4 separate regions of the Homo sapiens genome follow, and regions 2, 3 and 4 are each reported to be linked to region 1. Evidence: microRNA targets listed by miRTarBase, many of them from high-throughput screens and not tested one by one. Region 1 holds a microRNA gene; each other region holds the end of a gene's coding sequence. Distances are between the middles of the regions.

Region 1 (4,000 bases):
GGTTTTCATGGCAGTGATGAAACTTGAAATATTGTGTTTAATTCTTGGAGACAGATTAGGAAGGATACAGACAAGCAGGACCGATTGCAAGGAGAGCAATGAAGACATTAAAAAACATCCACAAAAAAGTCCGGAAGAATGATGGTTAGCTTTGGAAAGATAAGACTACAACAGGCTTGACAATTGTTTTTGAAAACTTAAAAATGGTCATGTAAAAAAGAATTACGCCTAATTGTGAGCATGATCAGGGATATGCATTCTGTTCTTTAAGAAATGCTGCTATCATCTAATTTTTTTTTTTCAATGGAGTGGGGGCAAATAAAAGTAAAGTGACTTTCCACGCATAGCAGATCCAATATGCTCAAATGTCACCCAAAGGAGTAGAGTTAAAGCCATGGCTGGAAGTTCATGAGCATCAATCCTGACTCAGTATATTGAAGAGTATTTTAGAAGTAAAAGCTGTACCAAACATGGGATTAGTCTTCTTGTCATTCATTCATAAACTTTTTATTTCTTTAGAGATGAGGTCTTGCTATGTTGCCCAGGGTGGACTCAAATTCCTGGGCTCAACTGATCCTCTCTCCTCAACCTCCAGAGTAGCTAGGACTACAGGCATGGGTCACTGTGCCCTGCCGAGAATTCACAAACATTTCTTGAGTGAAGACTCTTTGTTATGCATGGTGCTAGATTGTGAGTAGTGGACACTTTTTCTTCTGAGGCAGTCTTATATCAACACTTTATGCTGACTTTGTAAGAATATTCATGTTTTAAGAAGATACACAAAAACTATTTATTTAGCATTTATGGGTTTCAGTGATCAGCTGGCATTTTCTTTTCCTCAGAATTTAAAATATCTTCTGTAGGCTAACCAAAATATCACTGGGTAACTACCTACATTTCCTTTGAATTGGCAGTTGGGAGCACTGGTATCACTTCCTCTACCAAACTGTACAGAACTACTGTTATGTACCAAAGACCATAAATCACAGAGTTGCTGGGATTGTGAAAAAAATATTGAGACTGGCTGTCTCATCTTACAAATAAGGAAACCAAAGTCCAAGTGGGGCAAGTACTACCTGTAATGACATATCCAAAATGAGAGCACAGGTCCACTGAATCGTCCTTAGTACTCTATCCAATGCTCCACTATCTGCCCATAATATCCCACAGGTTACTATGTGTCGACACAAAGATAGACTAGGATTGACCTGAACAAACAGCCACAGTTATGTTAAACAAGCACCGTTTCCACCTCTCATAAGCTGTGTCTGATTTGCCATAAATCTCAAGCCAAATACGTCCAGTGAGTTGTACATTTATCATGTTAAGATGAAGGCTCTACTGGTGATAGATTTACTAAAAATATTCCAATCTTGTAATCTAAAGGACTTCAGCCTCAGGTGATATGGGGCCAGCAGCCAACATTGGAAAGACCACATCATGAAGTGAGGCTATACCGCCCTCTAGGGAGAGATGCTTGAAAAACCAGGGTCGACGCCTAAGTAAGGGGGTCACAGATTAGGTTTAAGTGGTTAAAATTTTATGTCTTCACAAAAAGTTTCCAACTACAGAAGAGTATTTAATTTTTCGCTAAGATGTAATATTCTACCTACCAAGAAAATCAATCACTGAATCAAAATATTAAAAAATAGGTGATATTAAGTTCTATAACAGTAAAACCTTAAGAAGGGAAGCTCTCTGAACATTAAAATACTCAGCCGAATTTCTAAATTAGTAAGACTTCAAAAAAGAAGACCATAATATCCACTATGTCCACTTATTAGCTTCAATCAAATAAGAGATTACTTTTGCAATTATTCTTCATGCAAAAAGATCTGTTAATCTCCCTGAGTGTCTCCCTACAAATCTCATTTCACCTGGGTGGCTCTTGGCAAGGTTAGCAGAATGTCGTCTGCAGAGAAGAAATGCAGAAATGCAGTTGAAGGGAACAATGACAAAGGCAAGCCCTAAGGCAAAAAAAAAAAAAGAAAGAAAAAAGAAAACAACAACAAAAACATGAAAACTGTATTCAGAGTTTGCTTACAAAGAGAAAACTCTCCAAAGCAATGAACTGAAACTGGCCACTGGAAAGACTTGTTTATAGATGTTCATTTTGACTCAATAGTACGCTGGAGTCCTACTCTTTATTTAATGATATGGTCAAGTCATGCAGGCTGATGTGGATGTGATCAGAGAGACTAACAAGAGTCTTTGTGTTGCCCTCCTGCATAGTTGAGGGATTAGATTTCTTTAAGAGTTGTACTGGTTAACCGTTAACTGAGTAACAAACTGCCCCAAACACTCAGGGGCATAGAAAAAAATGCAGCCATTTTTTCATGTGGCTAAGGAGCCTAAAGGTTGTCTGGGCAGTTCTTCTGGCATTGGCTGGGGCTTTACTCATGCATCTGCAGTCAGCTGCAGGTCCACTAGGCAGTTCTGAGGGTGTGTGGGGCCTTGGCTAGAATAACCAGGTAGATTCAGCTCTTTTCCTTAAATCTCATCTGCCAGCAACCAAGCCAGGCATTTTCCTATGGCAATGGCAGAGGATCAAGAGAGGAAGAAGAGGCAGTCAAGAACCTTTTAAGCCTTGCTGTGTTTAGTTTATTAGTGTCTCATGGGCCAAAGCAAATTTTAACAAGAAGCCTAAACTCAGTGTGGGAGGGCACCCCCAAAGGGCCTGGATAGAGAGAAGTATGAAGAACTGGGGAGGTGAATGCAATTAATTTGCCAGGCCAGGGGACAGAATCTTATATTGTCCCCTAGACAACCTAGAGGAAAATATAAAATTCTGTCTCCTGGCCTGGTAAACTGATACCTTAGAGGCATTTGCTTTGTGTGTATCTTAGATAAAATGCCTCCAAGGTATCAGTCACTGGTACCCTAGCTGACATCAGTTTCTTTTAGAAGAGCAGACTTTGAGAAAGGGAAGGGACACTGGGAAAGGGAACGTAAGATCAGTTCAGGCACTTCATCTTTTGATTCAAATAAGACAGTTCATACAATTTTGGGGGTTAACATTATTACAGAATGAATTAGAGTTGGGAATATAGATTAAAAGTTGAAAAAGAAATACAGAAAAGCAAATCAAAATTTTTTTTCAAAGACAGACATCAACTAATGCAGAATGAGAAACAAGATAAATCCTGCAAAACTTTTCCAAGGAAGCATTCAGCCTCTATCAAATGGGTCAGCTAAGAAGCTAAACGGCACAGCAAGGACATACTGATCCCATCATCTTCATGGTTCTAAATCAAACCAAACGTAGGTAAAAGGCCTGATATCTTCTCAGCTGATGAGTCAAATACTTCGAAGGGAAAATATAGTAAAATATTTCAAGGTTTGGAAGACAGCTTGGCTGTGACACATTCTGACTCACAACAAGTCATGAGTTTTCTGACAAAGCAAAAGTAGTGATGGAAAATATTGATATGATATCTATCATAGCATATGTATATAGTCAAAGTTCTTTCACAGCAAGCAAGTGTTGCCAAATGATCAGTTCAAAGAAGATTTCACGCCAATGAAGATGATTACAAAAAGGAAAAAGAGGCAATGTCGCAGTAGTTGCCAGAAAGGACTTACGGCTTTTCAGGTAGGTAGATAAGTCACAGGTACAAAGAAAAAATGAGATAGAAGCACATATTTGCCACACAAATAAACCTGCTAGAAGTATTCATGCTGGAAGTTTCAGCTTCCTAAAGTGACTCTTTCCATAGCCAGAGAGAAAAGAGGTTGCAAGATCAAGTTACTTTAAAGAAGAAATGAAATTCAAATTAAATTAACTCTTAGAGTGTTGAATATTGACATCAATGCCACCAGCCAATGTGAAGGTAAAGAGAGGCCTGCAGTTATGACTTCAGGACATACATGGCTTTCTTATAAAATGTTTATGTTGGCAGTTTTACTGCAAATAATACCTTCGAAACTGAAATGCATCTATTTAATCCTGATTTTTAAACAGTAAAGACTCTGAACTTTAGCAAAGAAAATCAACCAAGTC
Region 2 (4,227 bases), not on the chromosome of region 1:
AGTATGATGTTTAATATGCAATGTCATTATAGCTGTTCTTAAAGAATACTATAGGGAGGTCAGATGCAGTGGTTCATGCCTGTAATCCAAGCATTTTGGGAGGCTGAAGTGGGTGGATCACTTGAGGTCAGGAGTTCAAGACCAGCCTGGACAACATGGTAAAACCCCATTTCTACTAAAAACATAAAAATTAGTTAGGTGTGGTGGCATGTGCCTGTAATCTCAGCTACTTGGGAGGCTGAGGCAGGAGACTCGCTTGAACCTGCAGGGTGGAGGTTGCAGTGAACTGAGATTGTGCCACTGCACTCCAGCCTGGGCAAAAGAATGAGACTCAGTCTCAAAAAAAAAAAAAAACAAACTCAAAAATGAAAATAAAGTTGCAGCCAAAGTGACTCAGATGTTAACCAAGCAAGGAAAACATTTTACTAACGATAACTAAATTGTGTTTGATTCTATCGGCTGAAGGACTGTGTCCAAAGTAAACTTAAGACTATTAAATTAGCCTTTTGGCAAGAATGGTTGCTTAAAGAATTGAGAACACTGGGAACAACATCAACAGTCAATAAAAAACAAGGCAAATGACCCTGAGTGGTTTTCCTTGGCTCTTGATGAGTCAACAGATGTTACTGACACTGCCTAGTTATTGCTTATTTGATAAGTCAATGCCAACGTTGAAGTGACTGAAATTAGTCTCTATGAATTATCTGTGTGGCACAATTACAAGCATGAATATTTTATAAGAAGAAAACACAAATTTCATGCAACCTGAAGTAGAATCTGCTAAGATGTGTTACAACTGGTGGTGTTAAAAATGTGTGAAGCAAAATGATTACGTTTGTCAAATTTATAAAGCCTGTGAAAAGGTAAGAAGGTATTTAAAATCTATGGTTATTTACTGTATTATTCATCAGCAGGTACTTTGTGGGATATATTTGATTCAATTTTGTATTACTGAACTACTGGTAGCAATGGTGAACTTCATTTGCTCTCATAGTTTCTGATAGATTAAACATCAATGGTTCAGTTATCTTTTGTCAGATACAGAAGATGAATATGCTGATTTGCCCAACCACATTGGCATAATAGTGTTAGTTCTATTGTGAGCTTTTGCGTTCAGGGCTGATATTGACATTTTTCTGAAAAAGAAGACATGTCCTCAATCACTATTATGGAACACTGAATGGCTTTGGAATTTAGCTTTTGCTCAAGACTTAATAAAATTTTGAAATGAATTCAAGCCAAAATTACAAGGCAAAACGTGTTTACAAGCAAAACATAAGTCATTTTGATGACAACATTGTTTGAATTACAAGTAACAACAAGCTGCTTTACACATTTCCTGTGCTATCAAAAGGTAAGACAAAGAAGCGAGATCTCCACTCTCACACAAATTTGTAGCTCACACCATAGTGCCTGCAGTATTTTTTGGAGTTTGCAAATGTAAAGGAAATTTCCATTTTTCAAAATCAATTTAACAGTGCAATTGAGGAGCTTCTGCCTAGTCTTCAATTGGAAGTGATTAAGCTGCAATGTAATAACATGCTAAAAGGAAAATATCCAGAGAAGAAGTAACCTTTCAAGTGATGAATATGCTCAACAAAAATCATATTCTCATGGATTAATGTAAGTATTTGACAATACCTATCTGCAAGGAATTTTCAGAAGTAAAATACATAAAATCTTATTACAGATCAGCATTAACAAATGAGTACTTACAATCAACTTTAATGACACGAAACATTAACTTTGATCCTCCCTGTAAATATTTAATTCTTTTCATTAGTAAACCCGTATTACAAAAAAAATTGTTCTAAATTATTGTTTTGAATTTTGTCAATAAAATTTTCGTGCAAATTTTATTTCTCTCTAGTTATTTAAGTATCTACATAACAATCTCAGTTTTACCTCTTAGCCCACAAAGCCTAAAATATTTACTATCTGGCCCTTTATAGAAAAAGTTTCCTGACCTCTGCCCTAGAGCCAGAAGCTACCCTGAACACCTAAAAGCACAGGTTTAATGCAATGCTTCAGAAGCCAGATGGCCTGGGTTTATATGTTGGCTCTGCCACTAGCAGCTGTATGATCATAAATAAATTCTTCAATCTTTCTTTGCCTCAGTTTCCTCATCTGTAAATGGGGGTAAGTAATGGCATTTATCTTACAGGGTTGTTGTGAGAATTGAATTAGTCAATGCAAAGCACAAGAAACAGTGCCAGGCACAAAGGAAGCATTCTCCTCATGTGACTACTGAACACTTGACATACATCGTTTTGTTAAAAAAATGAATTAATTCTGCTACTCAGAAAGTAGACAGAAAATATTTTGTGGCATGAAAAGGCACAGCTGTTTTGAACACAAAACTAATATTAACTGTAGTATAACAAAATTCATTGTCCTGTTAAGTGCAAAATCGTTATATTCCAGCATCCACACACCCTAGCAAGATATATATCTCTCTCTATATAATATATATAATTATATATATGTATATAATATATACATGTACATTACATATAATATAAATGTAATATATAATTATATAATATATAATATATACATGTATATATTAAAAATCATAAATGTGGATATATATTATCTATAATATGTATATATAATGTGTATATATAATATATATCTCCACATTTATGTTTTTTTATATAATTCAGAAACCTCAAAACTTTACCTTTCACAAAATGTTAAGGCATCTGCTTCTAACAGTTGGAAAGCTTTTTTTATTTAGTAGTTTACCTCTTATTCTTGATTATACCCAAATTTTTATATTGGCATTATCCAGTAGTGAAATAGACAAAAATATCAGAAGAAAAGTGGAAACACTACAATTTTTTTTAAGAGAAAGGGACTTGCTATATTGCCCAGGTTGGAGTGCAGTGGCTGCTCACAGGTGCAATCATAAGTACACTAGAGTCTCAAAATCCCATCTCAAGTAATCCTCCTGCCTCCACCTCCTGTGTCGCTAGGACTACAAGTGTGTGCCACCACACCTGGCTAGAAAAACTAAAAATTTTCCAGTTGAACAGTTAATCCAGAGAAATAACCAAACAGCTGGAAAAGCATGTCTCATTCTCCAACTAGCTCTGACCATTTTGTACATACCAAACAAAACACTTGCCAGGTCACAGGCTTAATAAGACATCCTTACATGAAGGTGTAAAAAATTAACTTTTTTTTTTGCATAAATGCCACGATACTTTATTGCTCAGTGTTCCTTTGAAAATAAGTTAGCATGATTCCATGTTATTCTTTTATCAATCATATTATTGACTAAAGCATATCACTGATTAACATAAGGTAAAAATAATATCCACTCATATTCTTGAAGAGAAGTGCTTGCAGTATTTTATGAAAACATTTGTGCACATTTTTACTTGATTTAATGGACAATTTCATATTTTTCTTTAAAATCTACAAATGTCTTAATTCTTACCATTAAAACAACTAAAAACAAAACCCAAAACCAATCCCAAAATTAAACCCCAACAAAGCACATTAATTTTAATACAGAACATATATTAAGTCACTGAGTAAAGCTCTTTTTTATGAACACTTTTGGAAAGCTTGCATTCAGTTCTAGCACAGCTCTGTTATCAATCTGCGAACAGAAGGACACATCAAGTAAAGAAAGATCTTTACAAGATTCCAGGAGTTTTCTTAAGGATGCCGGACTTACCATTCTTGTTCCTATTTAAGGGAAACAAAACAAAACAAAACAAAACACCTTAAGTATAACATTTATATAATGTGCTAACAATGAATCCATCCATGATTTATTGTTTGTAATGAACTTAAAATAACCCTTTACAAATTAAAATCATTTTTTCAAACATGACTTCATATTGAAATGGTTCTGTTAAAAAAGTAAAAGTTGAATTTTCCAGCCAATTTAGCATCTAGGACCTGAATCTTGCCAATATCCTACCCACTATCTTCATTCCTACCTCCTACCCCTTCAAATCAGCTCCTCCAGACTTTCCTATTTCTGTCACCCCAGTTCAAAATGGTTTTCACCATGCATTTGATGTAAAATGTGCAAGTGCGATATGACTTCACAAAGTATCAATTGTGTGGACAATGATAACTACTGTGACACTGCTAGCACCCCTGGCTAAAAGTAAGAAGCAACAAAATTACACAGGGTTCCTTTCTGATGAATGCAGCAAGGATTCAAGAAATCCCAGAGCTGGAAAAGATTTTCAATAGATCTGCCTG
Region 3 (4,227 bases), 24 Mb from region 1:
TGTGGTAGTTATGTCTGTAATCCTAGCACTTCTGGGAGGCCAGGTGGGTGGATCTCTTAAGCCCAGGAGTTCGAGACCAGCCTGGGCAACATGGCAAAACCTCGTCTCTACTAAAAATACAAAAATTAGCCAGGTGTGGTGGTGCATGCCTGGAGTTCCAGCTACTCCAGAGGCTGAGGTGGGAAGATCACCTGAGCCCAGGGAGGTTGAGGCTGCAGTGAGCCGTGATAGTGCCACTGCACTCTAGCCTAGAGGACAGAGTGAGACCCTATTTCAAAAAATTCAAATCTTCTGAGTTAACTATTCACTTTGCATTTTAGTTTGCTTTCTAGTAATTAATGTCAGAGCGAGCTCCCAAAACCTTCAGCTGTTTCTTTGTATTCTTTTATCCAACTTGGCATACATGGCACCAACCTAATTGTTTTATTACAGAAAACAAGTATTTTCTCCCTAAATATCTTTTTCATAGATGATTAGACTTTTATGGAGATTAGAAAATATATAACAAAAGCTTGTTAAAAAAGTATGAATATTGCTGGCATATATCTGTAACAGCTGTTGTATACATGAAACAAAACTATTTTAAATTAAATGCCAAAAATAATGCATGTTAAAATGCATATTTAAAAACTTAGAAAATTTGACTCTCAGTTTGTTAAACTAACACCTTCCATTTTAACTAATAATAATTCTTGCACAAGAAATCTGTTGTAAGACCCTGAATGCAAGGCTTAGACTAAATGAAATGTTTCTTCACTGAGGTCAATTCACATCACCTAAAAGAATAGAAAACAAATGTTACAGGGTCATAAAATGTTAATGTGGGTATGTATACATACAAACATATATGTATATACATACAGATAAATAAAATCCTCTAAGATGAACTTTTTTTTTTTTTTTTTTTTTTTTTTTCAGAGATGGAGTCTTGCACTGTTGCCTAGGCTGGAGTACAGTAGTGCATTCTTGGCTCACTGCAACCTCCACCTCCCAGGTTCAAGAGATTCTCCTGCCTCAGCCTCCCGAGTAGCTGGGATTACAGGCGCCTGCCACCACGCCCAGCTAATTTTTTGTATTTTTAGTAGAGACAGGGTTTCACCATGTTGGCCAGGCTGGTCTCGAACTCCTGACCTCATGATTCACCCACCTCAGCCTCCCAGAGTGTTGGGATTACAGGCGTGAGCCACCGTGCCCGGCCAAGATGAACATTTTTTAAAACCAATTTTTCAGGTATAACATAAGATTTCTAGCCAAAGGAAAATTTTGTTGTATTAATTCTAACATTTGCTGTGATTTGGTATTATGTGGTATTTCTTTTGTGCTCTAACCAAAATCATGCTAGATTTAGATGCCAATAAATGCACAATTTGAATTGAAAACAGTCTTTTTACCTCCCAAATAATTTATGCCATAAAGTGACTGACCTCCAGCCATAGCCAAGATCTCACTTTCTTTTTTATTTTTTATTTATTTTTAATTTTTTTTTAGATCTCACTTTCTAGGTAAGTATAATGTTCCTTTCCTTACATACCTGAAACTGCCTGTTTTAGTATGTTATGGGCCTTTATAGCTCATTTATTTTGGCTATTTTTAAACTCCTTTCATTTATTTGACATCCCTTAAATTAAAAGAAAGGGTATTTAAAATATTTAAAATACAACTTTGTGATATATACATATACACACCATACACACACACACACACACACACACACACACACAGACACACACAAAACAATAAATTGTCTACTTATCAACTTTTAGCTTTACCCTGGACTTTGGCAATGTTGTAGATACTAGTTCAGGTTCTAGTTTTCCATTTTCACATGAGCTGGAAAAATGTTACAGACCACCATATTTAAACAAGCATCTCATATATAAAGAGTCTAACAGAAAGTCTCTTAGGGAAAAAAGAAAGTCCTTACAATAAAAACGGGAGGATTGCTAGGTGTGAAAAAAAAAAAGGCGTTTTTTCTGGTTATTTATCAAAATCTATTGTAATTTTAATGGTAGAGATAAAATTTTAACTTTTGCTAATTAGGAGAATACTTGCTTTCTATAAATTCAGTATATTTTTCTTAAACAATAATCAAGTAAAAACATCTAAATGTACAAAGCACTGATAGCTCTGATGTATTCTGTGGAAGGATAACTTATAACAGTTTAAGTCACAATACACTTTTTTAAAACCCAATATATTCCCTTCTTTTTCAAACATCAGAGCCTGAGACCCAGAAAAGTTATGATAAAATCTTATCCAACCAGATCAGAACTAAGGAAATTTTTTTTACCAATAATGTTTTTGTAACCTCTTAGCAGTTACCAAATGCTACTTACATACATTCAACATCTAGCTTACTGGCATGATATCAAAGTTTTATAAAAATGAGGAACTGCAGATATATGATTAGAAGGTACACAAATTGCATTACATTAAACACAAAGGCAGTGTGGTCCTTGTAGGAGAAATCAAGGTCAGTACCCCCTGGTAGAAATGTTCTATAAAAATGTGTCACATTGAAGTATCAGTGTTTCAGCCAATTGTCTGTCCCTGATATATTTCCTTGGAGTATGTAATGTATCAGGACTTTAGGTTTCTTAATCCAAAATGTCTGACTGAATTTAGGTACATCTAGAAAGCAGCTGAAAGGGTTTCTCTTATAGTCTGACATAACAGAAAGTAGATTGAGAAATCCCTCTCTTTACCTGAAGATGTACTGTTACACTTCAGCCATCAGCTCACAAAGGAAAAGAAGAAAAAAAAATCAAATCTCCTCTCACACACACAATCTCCACAAAAGCTAAACAAAAACTACCCCCCGCCCCCACAAAACCCCAGCACCAAAGTGTCAATCATTCCTGGGAAATAGAACATGCCCCTCAGATTCTGATTTGTTAGTTGGCCAAACTTGAAGGACAGAAATGACCTTATATGTCCTTGTGGGGAAGAGGGAAGACACGTTAATAATGACTATACAGCCATTGAGAAAGTGCATTATCAATTACACAATCAAGAGTCCTGCCCTCCAATGGAGGTGGTCACAACTTGATTTAAATGCCTCCGTAATTGAACATTTATGTCTTCGGGATAAAGGAGATGGGGGGGTGGAGAAAGAGCTACCCTCATTTTAATGAAAAAGTGCAGCAGTCTACCACCTTTCCCCATGCTTCTCCAGAAAATGATTGCACAGACTCAGAGAAGTCCAAAGTCATAGCAGAATCTCTGAGGCACTCCTGGTTAAGAGAAAAAAATATGATCCAGTAATCTTCATAGTTCTATAGATTATGAGAACAAACCCGTTTTGTTTTTAAACAAAAGCCAAAGAATCGTTTCATAGGGATCATATACACCATTTCCTCTAATGTACCCTCAGTCTCACAGTGTTGAAATGGGACCGATCAGCCTACGATGGATTGCACATCACCCAAGGAGAAAGGAAGGCATGGAAAAGGCAACCATTTTATACTGCTTCACAAACACATTTACAAGGGATAGGTGAAGAGAAGATGTAGGAAAGAGGGATAAAGAAAACCTTATTGCTGTTTTGATACAAAATACAGTATGAAGATACCTAAACTAAATGAAATCTGATAACAGTGACCAATATTTTCACAATGTGGGATGAAGTGTCTTCTTGCACAATGAAATGTTCAGTTTAAAAGGTAAGCAGAAAGATGAGGGAGGATGTCAAAACTACACCTGGGATATTAGCTGCATATTGAAACTTGGGGATCGAGACTGCTTGGTCAAGGGGGCTCCTGGGCTGAGGAGCTCTTTACCTTCGCCAGCTTGACCTAGCCGGTCTTCCTGCAGACTGACAGTTGAGTATCGATTAGCATTGTTGGCTGCTAAATTAGTACCTCCCTCAGTGCCAACCCCAATGCTGGTACTTGCTTGACTGCCATTTACATAGTCAAATGATTTACTTGAGGAAGCACTGGCTGTCCGGATTAGACTTAAGCTATTGATTTTTGGCACCACCTGGCCAGCAGGCAGGCTCAGGTGTTTCTTCATTGGTGTCAGCTCAACTGAATCTACACTAAGATCAGTTGGTTGCTGTACATACTGCTTGCGAACTACTGAATCTCGAGGGCTCTCACTGGATTTGATGGCAGAGGCTGTTTCTTTATCCTTGGCTGAACGCCCAGTTGCTACTTTCCTTAAGCTTCCCCTCTGAGAAGAGGAGGATGGTTTGGTCCCAATTGGCTGACTGCTGAGGGAAGCCCC
Region 4 (4,227 bases), not on the chromosome of region 1:
CCACCATGCCCAGCTAATGTTTTTGTTTTTGGTAGAGATTGGGTTTCATTGTGTTGCCCAGGCTGATTTCAAGCTTCTGGGCTCAAGTGATCTGCCCACTTTGGCCTCCCAAAGTGCTAGGATTACAGGCGTGAGCTACTGCGCCCGGCCTTGTTGGGGTTTTCAACCCATGTGGTGGTGAGAGGGGTCATTTAAAGATCATATTGATAAAGCAATGGTGTTGATTAAAGGAGCAATATTTTGAGAACAGGAAGCATATGCCTTGTTTTCTGTGTTTTTAAAATTAGATATTTGAAAAGCAACACAAATCATACTAAATAGTTAGTGCCATTTATTTTTTGTCCTCTCCCGGTGGTAAAACTTACTCTTTCTGTTTTTCTTGCAGAGCATGCTTGAGAAGGGAGGATAAAAACTTTCAGAATGAGCAAAACACCATCAACGTTAATTCCAGAGATGGAACATTTTTTTTCCTAGTGAGAAAACAACCCATTTGAAGAGAAGACCACTAATGAGAAGACCACTAAAGAGAGACATCAAGAATGGATTCAGCAGAATCATTTCACGTTTTGAACAGCAGCAGTTTGAAGGGCCAAAGCCTTGATCAGGGATCAGTCATTAAAGGACACTCTTGAGTATTAGTAAACCCTCTTATGATGATTAAAAGAGAAGGGCAGCCCTCTCCACCTTTTGGTACTTTCTATTCAACTTGCACTGACCATAAAATGTTTCTCTTCTGAACAAGCCCCATCATTTGGTGAACCTCCACCCTAACAAAGTAGGATGGGGTTGGGGGCTAAATTAATTGGAGTGGGGCGAGGAGAGAGCCAGAAAACATAGATCCGAGGGCAGCAGTGCTGGGTGGAGAGAGCCAGAAAACAGATCTGGAGGCAGCAGTGCTGGATGGAATTGTCTAGGCTGTGGCATGTTGGTTTTGTCTTTCTTTTCTCCTTTGATTATGTAAGAGCTATTTCATTATAACTTATTATGGTGATTATACAGGCAAGAAGACAAAAAGGAGAGAAAATGTACCTCTTCTACTGGAATAATGTTTATGATTACAAGTGAGATAAGGTATTTTTATCAATATGAAGGCAACCTTGGCTGATAAAACCTCTATAGTGAATACTCACATCTTTACTTCACTCACTATCAATAATAAATATATTTTCTGACAAAGACTGGCATTGTAGCTCCTCACACATTCCTTTGGCTGGGTTAGATGTCTATGCTTACGGGAATTGAGCTGATTTATATTGTTAATAATTTGCATTTGTGCTGTACCTTTCCTCTCAAAGGCTCCAGAGCATTTCGTGGAGCCTCCGACAGGCAAGTGATGCTTATAACTTGCCTATCAGGTAGGTAGAATTCGGGAAGATCTTTACAAATTGTGTGAACTTTCCTTTCTTTGGGATGACTTAAGTCATCCTGCCTGGGGCAAGAACTAGATTAGATAACCTTGGTTAGGACCTTCTGACCCTGCAATACTAAAAAACGTTTAAAGAAAATAATTCAACCATTAGGTTTTTTTTTCCTCTTTCCAATTTTTCAAAACTTCCTGATTATAACTCTCCCTTTTTTTTTTTTTTTTTTTTAACCATGATTGGTGCTTCAACCCTGGAGTTGAGTGAGTTGGAAATAAGTAGTCACACTGAAGCTAAATGAGAAGGTTCTTTTCAGACATAGGAGTACCAGTGCTCTGTGATATCCTTTAAGTGTCTTTTGTCATGTAGGATTTTTATTTTATTACGAAGCAAGTGAATTTAGCAAAATACAGGTTCTGTATTCTTAATCTGTGTACAAATTCTGGCTCTGCTGTGGAATTCAACCAAGTCAACCAATACTTCTTCAACTGCAAAAAGGGGGCAAATGGAAGAACTAATTTTTAGGCTTACAGTGAAGAGTCCAAATGCTGACTCACCGCATACGTTTGGTCAGACCCAGTAAATGCTGGCTTGTGTGATGATTCAGTAAACTGGCATTTGGCGTTGGGGGCATAGAACGTATTCACATGCCCAAGTACCTTTTATTTAAAGTTGGATGTACTTGTGATGGAACAGTCTCAGCCAACGCATGTGAGTGTAACTGCAGCTGCTTATTCATTCAGGTTCCCCAGGCGATGGCTCCCTCCGAGTGACATGTTCATAGACACTTGGGGACACACCTGCTGGCCTAACGTTGATTCTGAGCAACACTAGAGGCTCTCCTGCCATAATTACTGATATCCTCTGTGATGACTGCTTCATGAAGTTTTTTTTGTTTGGGTTTTTTTGTTTTGTTTTGTTTTGTGGGGGGCTTTCAGGTTTCTTTTTTAATGGTCTGAAAGAAGCTGAGTTTATTTCAGTGTGAATAAGGATTCACTGGTAACTTGAGGAGCAGCACATTTTGATGCTGTCAGGGTGGCATCCAGGTAGCTGCCTGAGAGAAATGGAAAAACCTGAGAGACACAAAAACAAATGTTTACATGGCGACTTGCTCTAGTGTTTGCAAATCAGCTAACTCACAAATTCCCTCCTATACTGTTTTGTTTTGCAATTGAGAGCCAAGCACTTGGCACATCCCAGGCTGCCAGTCTTGCCTCTGGCAGGCAAATGCAGCGCTGTAGAGTCAGGCGTCTAAAGTGGGCGAAATCCAGGGGAAGGGGGGTTGGTTCGACAGGCCGCTCCTCCCAGCATTGCTTATTAATTTATCATTCTGATAAGCATGGTAGGTGCAAGACAAAAGCCAGCGCTTTGGGGAAGTAAAAGGATGAAATGATGCCTTTCTCTCCGTCCTTGGAGAGCTCCCTGCTGATGGCATCACAGCTCTGCCAGGTCACAGTAGCTTTCCAGACCACTGCTTGGGAAGAGTGTTGTGATTTATATGAGGCTGTGGAGTGGTACATTCCAATCAGTTTCTCACTTAAGTAGAATGCACCTTCAGCCACAGTAGCTTAGCTCATGAAGCCAAGAAGAATAAAGTGTCTTGAAAGCTGATCAGAGGATATCACACTAAACAAATGTTTGAGGAACTTATAGAACACAGCTGGGTTGAATCAGCACGAAGTCCTCTTTGAGAAGTCAATAACATTACAGTAAACTTGCCAACATGCACTAGTTTAGAAAAGTATTGACTAATCATGATTAGTAGCAAATGTAGACTGCTAAAAGCCAGATGCCTGTGGCCAGTTGGTCAACCCACAAGACTCCCTACAACAGTTTTTAGCTTAGAACTGACCAGGTAGTCACATGTCCTCGACTTCTCGGGCTGAGAAATGGAGAATGTGTGGTTCTTCACTTGCTGTCTTCCAGCCTGCAGGTATAATTGCTTTTGCCAGAAACCCACATTGCAGTGAGCTGTAGGAGATGACCCTTTTGAGATTTAAGAATTAAAGCAACAAAATCTCAGTTAGATTAGGAGGAATAGTTCAAGAGATCTGTTGTACAACATGCTGACTGGTTAATAATGTTACAACGTATTCGTGAAATAATTTTTTTAAAGAATTAGCAGTTGAACAATTGAAAGGGCAGCAGTAACTTGCTGTGATTCAAACCAAGTGAGTTAGGAAAATAGTCTGTTTAGAATTAATCCTCTTGAAAGGCTAATGTTGTGAATGAATGCGTTGATACTCATTGTTATCTCACTGCTCTCCTCCCGTCTTCCTCTCCCAAGTTTTCCCAGTCTCTGCTTCCTCCTCTCTTCTCTGCCATCTTCATTCCCTCCTCTAACCTCCTCTGTGTGTTTACACTTTTCTCAGTCTCTCCAGCCTCCCTCCAGAGAAGCAGTGACAACGGAGTGCACAGTGCATCCTCCTGAGTGCAGAGTCCTGGGCTCTTGATCCAGCTCTGCTCCATTTGTCAGTGGGGACAAGTCACCTCCCTCTGGTCTCTCACTGTACAGTGGCCTGTTCGGGGTCCTTTCCATTATGATTTGTGTTTTTTGATACTTCCCTTCTTTTCTTCCCCGGCCTCCTAAATCTTTTAGTCCTATATTTAGTACTTCCTCTCATTTAGTAATTTCTTATTCTTACAGTTCTTATAAACTGGGTAAATTTTCTAAATGAAAACTATATTTGTATTTCTTTCTCTGTGCCCTTGATGGTACTTTTCCTACAGCTTATGGTCTCCATTAGGTTTTTGTTTTCCATCAGTGCCCTGAGGGATTTACTCCGTGGGCAGGCTGCATCTAGTCTAGGAAGTCACCTTAGGACACGTAGGCCATTTGTGCTGATGACACCCACGGTCCAAACCA

Evidence for each region. Region 1 holds the annotated microRNA hsa-miR-4439 (GUGACUGAUACCUUGGAGGCAU, at 2,852-2,873, opposite strand). A microRNA usually pairs through its seed, bases 2 to 8, with sites in the 3' UTR of a target mRNA and lowers its output. Matches are read on the target gene's strand: a 7mer-m8 pairs with bases 2 to 8, a 7mer-A1 pairs with bases 2 to 7 and ends in A, and an 8mer does both.
Region 2: miRTarBase lists FBXL4 as a target of hsa-miR-4439. Seed matches in the 3' UTR shown: 7mer-m8 at 678-684.
Region 3: the mRNA of HYCC2 is a reported target of hsa-miR-4439. Seed matches in the 3' UTR shown: 7mer-m8 at 2,613-2,619 and 7mer-m8 at 1,417-1,423.
Region 4: miRTarBase lists CHCHD3 as a target of hsa-miR-4439. Seed matches in the 3' UTR shown: 7mer-m8 at 609-615.

What each region holds. Positions count from the first base shown.
Region 1 is chr2:225,007,665-225,011,664 of GRCh38, forward strand. It overlaps MIR4439 (microRNA 4439), which reads right to left and starts at 2,876; the gene lies at 2,797-2,876. All of the region lies in intron 1 of DOCK10 (dedicator of cytokinesis 10), which reads right to left.
Region 2 is chr6:98,870,743-98,874,969 of GRCh38, forward strand. It overlaps FBXL4 (F-box and leucine rich repeat protein 4), which reads right to left. Exons shown (of 10, transcript NM_001278716.2): 10 at 1-3,699. The coding sequence ends at 3,536. Among named protein-coding and RNA genes, the nearest start is that of POU3F2, 38 kb to the left of the region's middle.
Region 3 is chr2:200,977,577-200,981,803 of GRCh38, forward strand. HYCC2 (hyccin PI4KA lipid kinase complex subunit 2) reads right to left here. Exons shown (of 13, transcript NM_001321623.1): 13 at 1-4,227. The coding sequence ends at 3,694. All of the region lies in intron 1 of LOC105373835 (a long non-coding RNA gene), which reads left to right. Among named protein-coding and RNA genes, the nearest start is that of ORC2, 16 kb to the left of the region's middle.
Region 4 is chr7:132,781,819-132,786,045 of GRCh38, reverse strand. It overlaps CHCHD3 (coiled-coil-helix-coiled-coil-helix domain containing 3), which reads left to right. Exons shown (of 8, transcript NM_017812.4): 8 at 386-1,176. The coding sequence ends at 409. Among named protein-coding and RNA genes, the nearest start is that of FLJ40288, 140 kb to the right of the region's middle.